Linked DNA regions of Homo sapiens: region 2 is linked to region 1. Evidence: fine-mapped expression QTL. Tissue or cell type: neutrophils. Region 1 holds a variant in brackets; the other region holds the start of a gene. All regions are shown on one strand. Distances are from middle to middle.

Region 1 (5,000 bases):
CTGCCCCGCCCGGCGCAGTCGCCCGGCTCTGGGGCCCGGCGGCTGCAGAGTCGAGCGTGGGGCGGACGCGGCGGACGTGGGTGAGGGCGCGGCCGTAAGAGAGCGGGACGCGGGGTGCCCGGCGCGTGGTGGGGGTCCCCGGCGCCTGCCCCCACGGCACCCAAGAAGGCCTGGCCAGGGTACCCTCCGCGGAGCCCGGGGGTGGGGGGCGCGGGCCCGGCGCCGCGATGGGCCCGGGACCCCCAGCGGCCGGAGCGGCGCCGTCCCCGCGGCCGCTGTCCCTGGTGGCGCGGCTGAGCTACGCCGTGGGCCACTTCCTCAACGACCTGTGCGCGTCCATGTGGTTCACCTACCTGCTGCTCTACCTGCACTCGGTGCGCGCCTACAGCTCCCGCGGCGCGGGGCTGCTGCTGCTGCTGGGCCAGGTGGCCGACGGGCTGTGCACACCGCTCGTGGGCTACGAGGCCGACCGCGCCGCCAGCTGCTGCGCCCGCTACGGCCCGCGCAAGGCCTGGCACCTGGTCGGTAAGCGTCCCGGCCCCGCCACCTGTCGGGCAGCCCCTCCGAGACTCCGCGACCCGGGCGCCTCCTCCCTCTGACTCACCACCCGCCGTCTGCCTGCCTCAGGATCGGAGTCTCCCCTCGGTCTGTCTGTCCCGTGGCCCGAGCTTCCCTGCACTGTCTGTCCACGGCCTTAACCTCCCCTATGTATCTGTCTGCCCTATGAGCTGAGTTTTCACCCCTCTGTCTGTCCCCTGGCCCGAACCTCCCCTGTCTGTCTGTCTGTGCCCATGGCCTGAGCTTCCTCCATCAGTCCCACCACCCAGCCCCCTCTCTCTGCCTGCCTGGGACCTAAGTCTCCCCTGTTTGTCTGCCCCATGAGCTGAGTTTTCACCCCTCTGGCTGTTCCGTGGCCTGAGCCTCCCCCGTCTGTCTGACTACCCAGTGGCCCCTCTGTGGTGTCACTCCTGAGCCTCCCCTGCCTGTCCCACCATCCAGCATCCCCCGTCTTTCTGCCCCATGGCCTGAGCCTCCCCCGTCTGACTGTGCTGTGCCTCCCCCATCTGTCTGACTGTGCAGTGCCTCCCCCATCTGTCCAACTGTGCAGGGCTTCTCTATCTGCCTGAGCCATGAGCCTCCCCCATCTGTCTGTTTAACTGCCCCGTATCCCCTCTGTCTGTCCCTTGGTCCAGCCTCCCCTGTCTGCCTCAGAGCTGCTGTCTGACCTGCGGGGCCCTCACCATCTGACTACATGACTTTCTAGTGGGAATGCCTTTGTTTGTCTGAGCCCCCGGGCCACCCTGAACCCTCTGGAGGGTTGGTGGTGACTGCTCAGCGCCTCCTTTGTCAGTCTGTCTAGCCTGAGCTCGTCTATTAGGGTGACCAACTGGGACAGCTATGGCTGAGGGACAGTCAGGCCCCCTAGAGCCTCCTCTCTCTCTGTGTGTTCTGCCAGGGCAACCTGGTGCGTCAGCAGTTTGAGGGTGCTGCTCCGGGAGTTGAGAGTTGGGAGCCGCCTGGGTGGGACTGGAGGGTCAGGGGTCTCTGCCCTGTTCTTGCATTGCCTCTATCTGTCTGGCCAGGGTCAGGGACCCCCTAGGTCTGGGGGAGCTGCCCTGATTAGAGAGGGCTGTTGGGAGGGCAGGAGGCTGGCGTCATGGGCTGGGTCACCCTGCCCCAGTGCCCATCGATAAGACTGCAGGGCTGCCTCCCAGCGGCCCTCCTCTCCCCTCCCGGACCCTGGGCCTGAAGATTAGCCGGCCTCCTTCCCTGCTCTTCTTGCCCTCACAGAAGTGCCGGCTGCGTCCTGGCATTTGGGACACATGTGGCATTTCAGCAGGCAGGGCCAGGAATCCTGCTCAGTTCTTGGAATTCCAGGTGGCAGGAGGGGCAGGCGGGTGCCTCCTCACCCTTGGGAACAATGACTGGGATGGGTGGTTGGACCCAGGATCTGGGTGATGACATTTTTTGCAAGAGGCAGTGGATCTCCAGTGGTCTGAGGGTGGCAGGCTCCGCAGCAGGCACAGCTTGGGGACTGGAGTTTCATGTTTCCTATGTCCAGGCTATTCCTGGGGTACCTGAGGCGGCGGCAGACAGGGAGGGGACCGGCTGTCCCTTCCTTTGTGGTTACGTTGGGATTGGTTGCTGAGCGGAGCCCAGGG[C/T]CCCAAATGCCTCTTTGATCATAATAGTTGGATAAGCTCTTTGACAGTCGCGTAAGATAATTTCTGGGCGGGCCGGGCACGGTGGCTCACCCCTGTCATCCCAGCACTTTGGGAGGCCTCCTCACCTGAGGTCAGGAGTTTGAGACCAACCTGGCCAACATGGCAAAACCCCGTCTCTACTAAAGTACAAAAATTAGCCGAGCGTGGTGGCGCACGCCTGTAATCCCAGCTACTTGGGAGGCTGAGGTGGGAGAATCGTTTGAACCCGGGAGGCAGAGGCTGTAGTCAGCCAAGATCGCGCCACTGCACTCCAGACACAGCGAGAGTCTGTCTAAAAAAACAAAAAACAACAACAACAAACCAAAACAAGAAAACAAACAGAAACAGCAACCGAAGGCTTTATGTTTTTCCAAAGCAGACCTCAGGGAACCAGGTGGTCCAACCGGACACCAAGGCGTCCACCGTCACCCCTCTTCCCCGCCTCGGGGAGGGCACCTGCCCTGGGAGCTGAGAGGTGGGGGCCACCTGGGTGGGCCTGGAGGGTCAGGAGGGTCTGTTGGGAGCAGAAGCCCAGGCAGCCGCTCTTGATGCCTGAGCAGGTGACTTGAGTGAAGGTTACCCTGGCAATGGCACCCACTTCTGTATTTCACCCCCAAGTCTGGGGCTGGTGGCTAAGGACTCACTTTGCCCTTTAACAAGTCCTGGGGAGCTCCCCCACAATCCCGAGACGACCCTCAGAATCAGACACAAACACTCCTGTGAGTGGGCAGATGGCACAAATGGGCTTCAGAAGGAAGGACATTAACTTTGAGGTTTTGACGGATGGGTAGCAGTGTGTGGAGGGGCGCATTCCAAGTAGCAGAAACAGCTGTGGAAAAGGTAGGAACAGTCCTCACTTTGAAGCTGCGGAAGCAGGAAGTGGTTCAGAATAGACGGAGCTTTTGCTGGTGCCACACATGAACTCTATCCTCACAGCAGCCTGTGAGGCAGGAACTTTCTTTCTTTTTTTTTTTTTTTTGTTTTGTTGTTGTTGAGACAGAGTCTCACTCTGTCGCTCAGGCTGGAGTGCAGTAGCGGGATCTCGGCTCACTGCAACCTTCGCCTCCTGAGTTCAAAGGATTCTCGTGCGTCAGCCTCCTGAGTAGCTGGGATTACAGGCACGTGCCACCAAAGCCGGCTAATTTTTAAATTTTTAGTAGAGGCAAGGTTTCACCATATTGTCCAGGCTGGGCTTGAACCGCTGACCTCAAGTGATCTGCCTGTCTCAGCCCCCCACAGTGCTGGGATTACAGGTGTGAGCAACCACGCCTGGCCATGGGCAGGAACTTTCACTACCCTTCTTTCTCTTCTTTTTTTAATTTTTTATTTATTTTTATTTTTTATTTTTGAGACGGAGTCTTGCTTTGTCACCCGGGCTGGAAGGCAGTGGCGTGATCTCAGCTCACTGCAACCTCAACCTCCTGGGTTTAAGTGATTCTCCTGCCTCAGCCTCCCGAGTAGCTGGGACTACAGGCTCGTGCCACCATGCCCGGCTAATTTTTGTATTTTTAGTAGAGACAGGGTTTCACCATGTTGGTCAGGCTGGTCTCGAACTCCTGACCTCAGGTGATCCATCCGCTGCAGCCTCCCAAAGTGCTGGGATTACAAGCATGAGCCACCGCACCCAGCCTCTTCTTTTCTTTTCCTTTCTTTCTCTGTTTCATTTCTTTTCATTGTTTTTTTTTTTTTTTTTTTTTTTTTGAGAGATGGAGTCTCACTGCAAGCTCTGCCTCCCGGATTCACACCATTCTCCTGCCTCAGCCTCTCGAGTAGCTGGGACTACAGGCGCCCGCCGCCACGCCCGGCTAATTTTTTTTGCATTTTTAGTAGAGACAGGGTTTCATCATGTTAGCCAGGATGGTCTCGATCTCCTGACCTCATGATCCACCCGCCTCGGTCTCCCAAAGTGCTGGGATTACAGGCGTGAGCCACCGCGCCCGGCCTTTTTTTTTTTTTCTTGACAGGGTCTCGCTCTGTCGCCCAGGCTGGAGCGCAGTGGCACGATCACGACTCACTGCAGCCTCGACCTCCTGGGTTCAAGCAGTCCTCCCACCTCAGCCTCCCAAAGTGCTGGGATTGATTACATGATCCACCACTCCTGGCCACTATCCCTGTTTTCTGAAAACTGAGGCCTAGAGAGGCACAGTCACTTGCCCGAGGTCCCCAGGCCAGGCAGCCTGGCCCCAACAATGGTTAACCCAGACTGGCCAGCAGGAACAGGGAGTCCAGCCAGGAAGGGACCTTCTCACTGGAGTCCACAGTTCATGCTCTGCCCCCGGATGACCTCCCCAAGGACCCCAGGAATCTGCGCAAACCCTCCCAGGCCCTAGTTCCAGAGAAACCAGCAGGAGAGGCTGGTTTTGGTTTCACTTCCCAATTCCAGTTCTCTGGGGGCGGGCCCAGGGTCTGGGGATGAGGTCACCTCCGGAGGGAGGAAGGAGGTCCAGCCACCAGGCTTGGTACAGGGGCCCTTCCAGGTGCCCCAGGCTGGGAGGAGAGGAGTGCAGGGCTGCAGGGAAGGAGCCTGGCTCCGACTCACTCTAGGGGCCTCAATTTTCCCATCTGGAAAATGAGGATAATGACACCCACGCTTACAGGCTGTGTCAGGGCCACTATTGTTACTCACTCAGAAGATACTGAAGTAACAGCCGGTATGGTGGCTCAAGTCTGTAATCCGAGCACTTTGGGAGGCCGAGGCAGGAGGATCACTTGAGGCTAGGAGTTCGACTTCAGCCTGGCCAACGTGGTGAAACCCCATCCCTACCAAAAATACAAACATTAGCTGGATGTGGTGGGATG
Region 2 (5,195 bases), 400 kb after region 1:
GGTAGTTCCAGGATAGTCCCAAACAATGCGAGGCTCTCCTTCATGCGGTTCTGTGTTGGGGGCAGAAGCAGGTTAGTGCTTCAACCAGCCAGGTGGGACAGGAAACCCTCCCATCGCGGAGACGGGGCTGTTGGCTCCAGGGGCATGGGCTCACCCCTATCTGCCTGGCTGGGGCTGAGGCGGGTGTGCCCGTGTTTCCATATGGACAGCTGCCTGGGTGTGCCTGACATGGTTTTGTGCCTGTGCTGGTTGGAAGTGTGTCCTCCCGAAATTCATGTCCCCCCAGAGCTTCAGAGTGTGACCTTATCTGGAGAGAGATTCTTGAACTCCTGGCCTCCCAGCGTGCTGGGGTTATAGGCATGAACCACTGCACCTGGCCTGGAGATAGGGTCTTTGAAGAGGTCGTTAAGGTGAGGCAATACTAGAATACGGTGGCCCTCAAGTCCGTGACTGCTGTCCTCATAAGAAGAGGGAGACCTGGCCGGGCGCGGCAGCTCACGGCTGTAATCCTAGCACTTTGGGAGGCCAAGGCGGGCAGATCACCTGAGGCCAGGAGTTGGAGACCAGCCTGGCTAACATGGTGAAACCCCGTTTCTACTAAAAATACAAAAAATTAGCCGGGCATGATGGCAGGTGCCTGTAAACCCAGCTACTCGGGAGGCTGAGGCAGGAAAATCGCTTGAACCCGGGAGGCGGAGGTTGCAGTGAGCTGAGATCGCGCCACTGCACTCTAACCTGGGCGACAAAAGCGAGACTCCATCTCAAAAAAAAAAGTACAATAAGGTCTCAAATGCCTTGTGTTATGGGGTACATCATATTTCCCCAAAATTCATACGTTCAAGACCTAACCCCCTAGAACCTCAGTTTGTGACCTTCTTTGGAAACAGGGCCATCACACGAGGAATTAACCCAGATGAGGTCGTACTGGAGTAGGGTGGGCCCTGATCCTAGACGACTGGTGTACTTATTAAAAGAGGCTATTGGCTGGGCACAGTGGCTCACGCCTGTAATCCCAGCACTTTGGGAGGCCGAGGCGGGCGGATCACGAGGTCAGGAGATTGAGACCATCCTGGCTAACATGGTGAAACCCCCTCTCTTCTAAGAATACAAAAAAAAAATTAGCCGAGCGTGGTGGCGGGTGCCTGTAATCCCACCTACTCCGGAGGCTGAGGCAGGAGAATGGTGTGAACCCGGGAGGCGGAGTTTCCAGTGAGCCGAGATCGCGCCACTGCACTCCAGCCTGTGCGTGTGCGTGCATGTGTGTGTGCACGCATGTGTGTGCCTGTGTGCCTGTGTGTGCGTGTGTGTGCCTGTGTGTGCGTGTGCATGTGTGTACTGTGTGTGTGCATGTGTGTGTTCATGTGTGTGCGCATGTGTACATATGCGTGTATTGTGCACGTGAGTGCATGCAAGTGTGCATGTGTGTGGTGCATGTGTGTTCGTGTGCATGTGTTGTGCATGTGCACTGCGTGTGTACATGTGTCCCGTGTGTGCACGTGTGTATGTGCATGTATTATGCACGTGTCTGTGCGTGTTTGTGTGCATGCATTGTGTATGTGCGTGTGTGCACTGTAGTGTGTGTGTGTGTGTGTGTGTGTGTGTGTGTGTGTGTGTCTGGGGTCCTGACCAAACAAATGCTGTAGGTCTGTGTCTTGGGTTGCTGCAATCTGACCACAAAAGGCTGAAGGGTCAAGTTCATAGCCATGCTGGGCACACACAGGCCCGTTCAAGAGCAGGGATCCCTCCCTTTCTGCACCAGAGCTTCCTGCTCAGGTGAGGGTCCCTGGGCCAACAAGTGGGCAGGGCGAGGGAGGCGGTGGCGCACCTCCTGGTTGTTCTCCTCCAGGCACTGGTCGTATTCACTCAGTGAGGCCAGGTAGATGAGGGCGATCACGTTCTCGAAACAATGGATCCATTTCTTACGCTCTGACTTCTGGCCCCCGACGTCCACGATCCTACAGGGAACCGAGGTGCCCCCTTTCAGAGCTCAGGAGCCTGCTCCGTGACACCCCCAACCCCCATCACGTCTGGGATATGCCAAGATCCATAATAGCGACAGCAAGAATAGGTGCTAGCCTCTCGTGGATTTGCCATGTCATTCCCGCGAGGCAAGGATGAGTCTTACGCCCATTTTACAGATGAGAAGCCTGAGATCCAGGGAGGAGCGGGGACTTTCCCAAGCTTCTACTGTGCTGGGCTGCCTGCTTTCTACCCCCATATTAGAGGGGAGCAGGTTGGACAGATCTGAGATGTGCCCTGGTGCTGGCTGGGCGACCCGGCGGAGGAAATTGCCAAACATCTCCAAAACTCAGTTTTCCCATCTGTGCTATGGGGCTCCTGTGCTCTGGCTGGCCATGGGCATGTCCAGTGGCCACACAGATGGGAATGAGGGCTGTTCCCAGAGCACACGTCCTCCCCTCCATCTGTGACTCAGCCCCACGCACCGTAACAAAAGCCTGAACCCTGCCCCCACCTTCCTGTTCTCTCTCTTCTGAGAAATGTGGGTCGCTGATAACCATCTGTGCGTCATTTCCCTGGGGATGCAACCGTTACTCAGGAAGTCCCAGAACAGAGGCTTTGGACGGGCCCGGCCCAGGGCCTCAAGCAAGAAGGGACTTGCCCCATTGCACAGGAGGGGAAACCGGGACTGATGATGAAGCAGTTAGGCTGCAGCTGCTGGATGTGTCTCCTGATCCCTGAGACCCACTCCTCCCATGCATCCTCAGAGTCCCTCAAACCCCACATCCAGAGCCAGACAGGGTAAGCAGCCGTCGAGAGGGGGCTCTGGAGACTGAGACGGGAGTGGGATCAGCAACTGACCAGTTGGGAACTGTGGGCATCACCTCTCATCTCGGGTCTCAGTGTCCTCTGAGCCCTCACTCCATTCATTCGTCTCACTCCTGGGCCACACCTAAAAATCACTTCCTTGGCCCAGACTTCCCCATGATTTCCCAGCCTCTACCTTCACTCCTAAACTTTTATCCACCCACCCACCCCATTCATCGATTTATTCACTCATCCATCCACCCATCCACCCACCCACTCATCCATCCACCCATCCAGCCATTCACTCATCCATCCATCTATCCATCTACCCATCTATCCATCCATCCATCATCCATCCACCCACCCATCCATCCACCCATCCAGCCATTCACTCATCCATCCATCTATCCATCTACCCATCTATCCATCCATCCATCATCCATCCACCTGTCCACCCATTTACGAAATCCACCCACCGACCCACCCATCCATCTCTCCATTTACTCATCCATCCATCCATCCACCCATCTGTCCACCCATTACCCAGCTACCCATCCATCCATCTACCCATCTATCCACTCACTCATCCACCCATGTACCCATCCACCCACCCTCCCACCCATCCACTCATCCATTCATCCACTCACCCATCCACCCATTCATCCATTCATCCGTCACCCACCACCCATCTACCCATTCATTCATCCATCCATCCACTCATCCACCCATCCATCCACCCATTCATCCATCCATCCATCACCCACCACCCATCTACCCATTCATTCATCCATCCATCCACTCATCCACCCATCCATCCACCCATTCATCCATCCATCCATCCATCCATCCCACCCATCCATCCATCTATCCATCCACCCATCCATCTATTCATTCACTCATCCATCCATCTATCCGTCTATCCATCTACCCATCTATTCATCCATCCATCATCCACCTGCCTGTCCACCCATTTACTCAATCCACCCATCCATCCATCGCTTCATCTACTCATCTATCCATCCACCCATCTGTTCACCCATTATCCATCTACTCATACATCCATCTACCCATCTATCCACTCACTCGTCCACCCATCTACCCATCCACCCACCCACACCCCCATCCACTCATCCATTCATCCATCCATTCACCCACTCATCCATCCATCCTTCACTCACCCATTCACCCATTTATTCATTCATTCATCCATCACCTGCCACCCATCTACCCATTCATTCATCCATCCATCCACTCATCCACCCATCCATCCATGCATTCACCCACCCATTCATCCATCCATTCATCCATCCCACCCACCCATCCATCTATCCACTCATCCATCCATCCTTCACTCACCAATCCACCCACCCATCCATTCACCCATCACCCTTCCACCCATCTACCCATTAATTCATCCATCCACTCATTCACCCATCCATCCACCCATTCATCCACCCATCTATCCATCTATCCACTCATCCACCCACTCATCCATTCATGTATCACCCATCCACCCATCTAACCATCCATCCATCCATCCATCCACTCATCCCTCTTTCAATCCATCCATCTATCCATCCATTCATCCATCCACCCACTCATCCATCTATCCATTGATTCATCCACTCATCCATCCTGCCACTCCATCCATCCACTCATCTATCCCTCAACTTATCCATCCATCTATTCATCTATCCATCCACCCATTCATCCACCCATCCATTCCCTTCCATCTTTCCTTTTTTTTTTTTTTTAAAGATTCCCAGACCAAGTATCTCTCCCATAGAAGTCATCCTTGGGTACTAACACTACTATTGTGTCCCAGAGCTGGTTCCTTCTCGTGGGTTCTCGGTCTCGCTGACTTCAAGAATGAAGCCGCAGACCTTCGCAGTAAGTGTTACAGCTCTTAAAGGTGGTGTGGACCCAAAGAGTGAGCAGCAGCAAGATTTATTGTGAAGAGCGAAAGAACAAAGCTTCCACAGCGTGGAAGGGGACCCGAGCGGGTTGCCCCCATTCCATCTTTCCAACCATCCACCCACATTTACCAACTTCTACTCTGACCTTTAGCTATTCACTAAAGAAGCAGAAGAATCAAACTCAGCCCCTAACCTTGTGAGGCTCTCCATCTTGTAGAGGAGACCCACAGAAAACAGATAAATTATGAACCTTCCTAGTAAGGACTATTGAAGAGGCCAAAACAATAGGTTTGGGGGATTTAGGGAAAGGAAGGCCAAATAGGGGTAGGTCAAACACAATCGCTGTCTCTGGGCATGACTTTGCACCCCTGCTCAGCTCCCCGCCATCAGCCCATGGAAACAGATCTTGCTAAGGTCACCAGTGACCCTCTAACTGCCAATCCCAGAGTCATTCTTCTCACTGTATTCTTGACCTTTCCTTTCCTGACCTTTGACATTGGCCATTGCTCTGCT

What was found. PIP is the estimated chance that this variant, and not a neighbour inherited with it, causes the effect.
Region 2: it holds the start of GNA15-DT, and the variant in region 1 is fine-mapped to the expression of GNA15-DT in neutrophils (BLUEPRINT, PIP 0.95).

The regions. Positions count from the first base shown.
Region 1 is chr19:3,552,631-3,557,630 of GRCh38, reverse strand. It overlaps MFSD12 (major facilitator superfamily domain containing 12), which reads left to right and starts at 45. Exons shown (of 10, transcript NM_174983.5): 1 at 45-525. The coding sequence starts at 228. RefSeq lists silencers at 1-159, 200-269, 450-619. The variant C/T (reference allele first, on the strand shown) is at 2,163.
Region 2 is chr19:3,152,583-3,157,777 of GRCh38, reverse strand. It overlaps GNA15-DT (GNA15 divergent transcript), which reads left to right and starts at 2,603. Exons shown (of 4, transcript NR_110670.1): 1 at 2,603-2,760. It overlaps GNA15 (G protein subunit alpha 15), which reads right to left. Exons shown (of 7, transcript NM_002068.4): 5 at 1,826-1,955; 6 at 1-50. RefSeq lists enhancers at 2,283-2,372, 2,413-2,742, 2,030-2,987.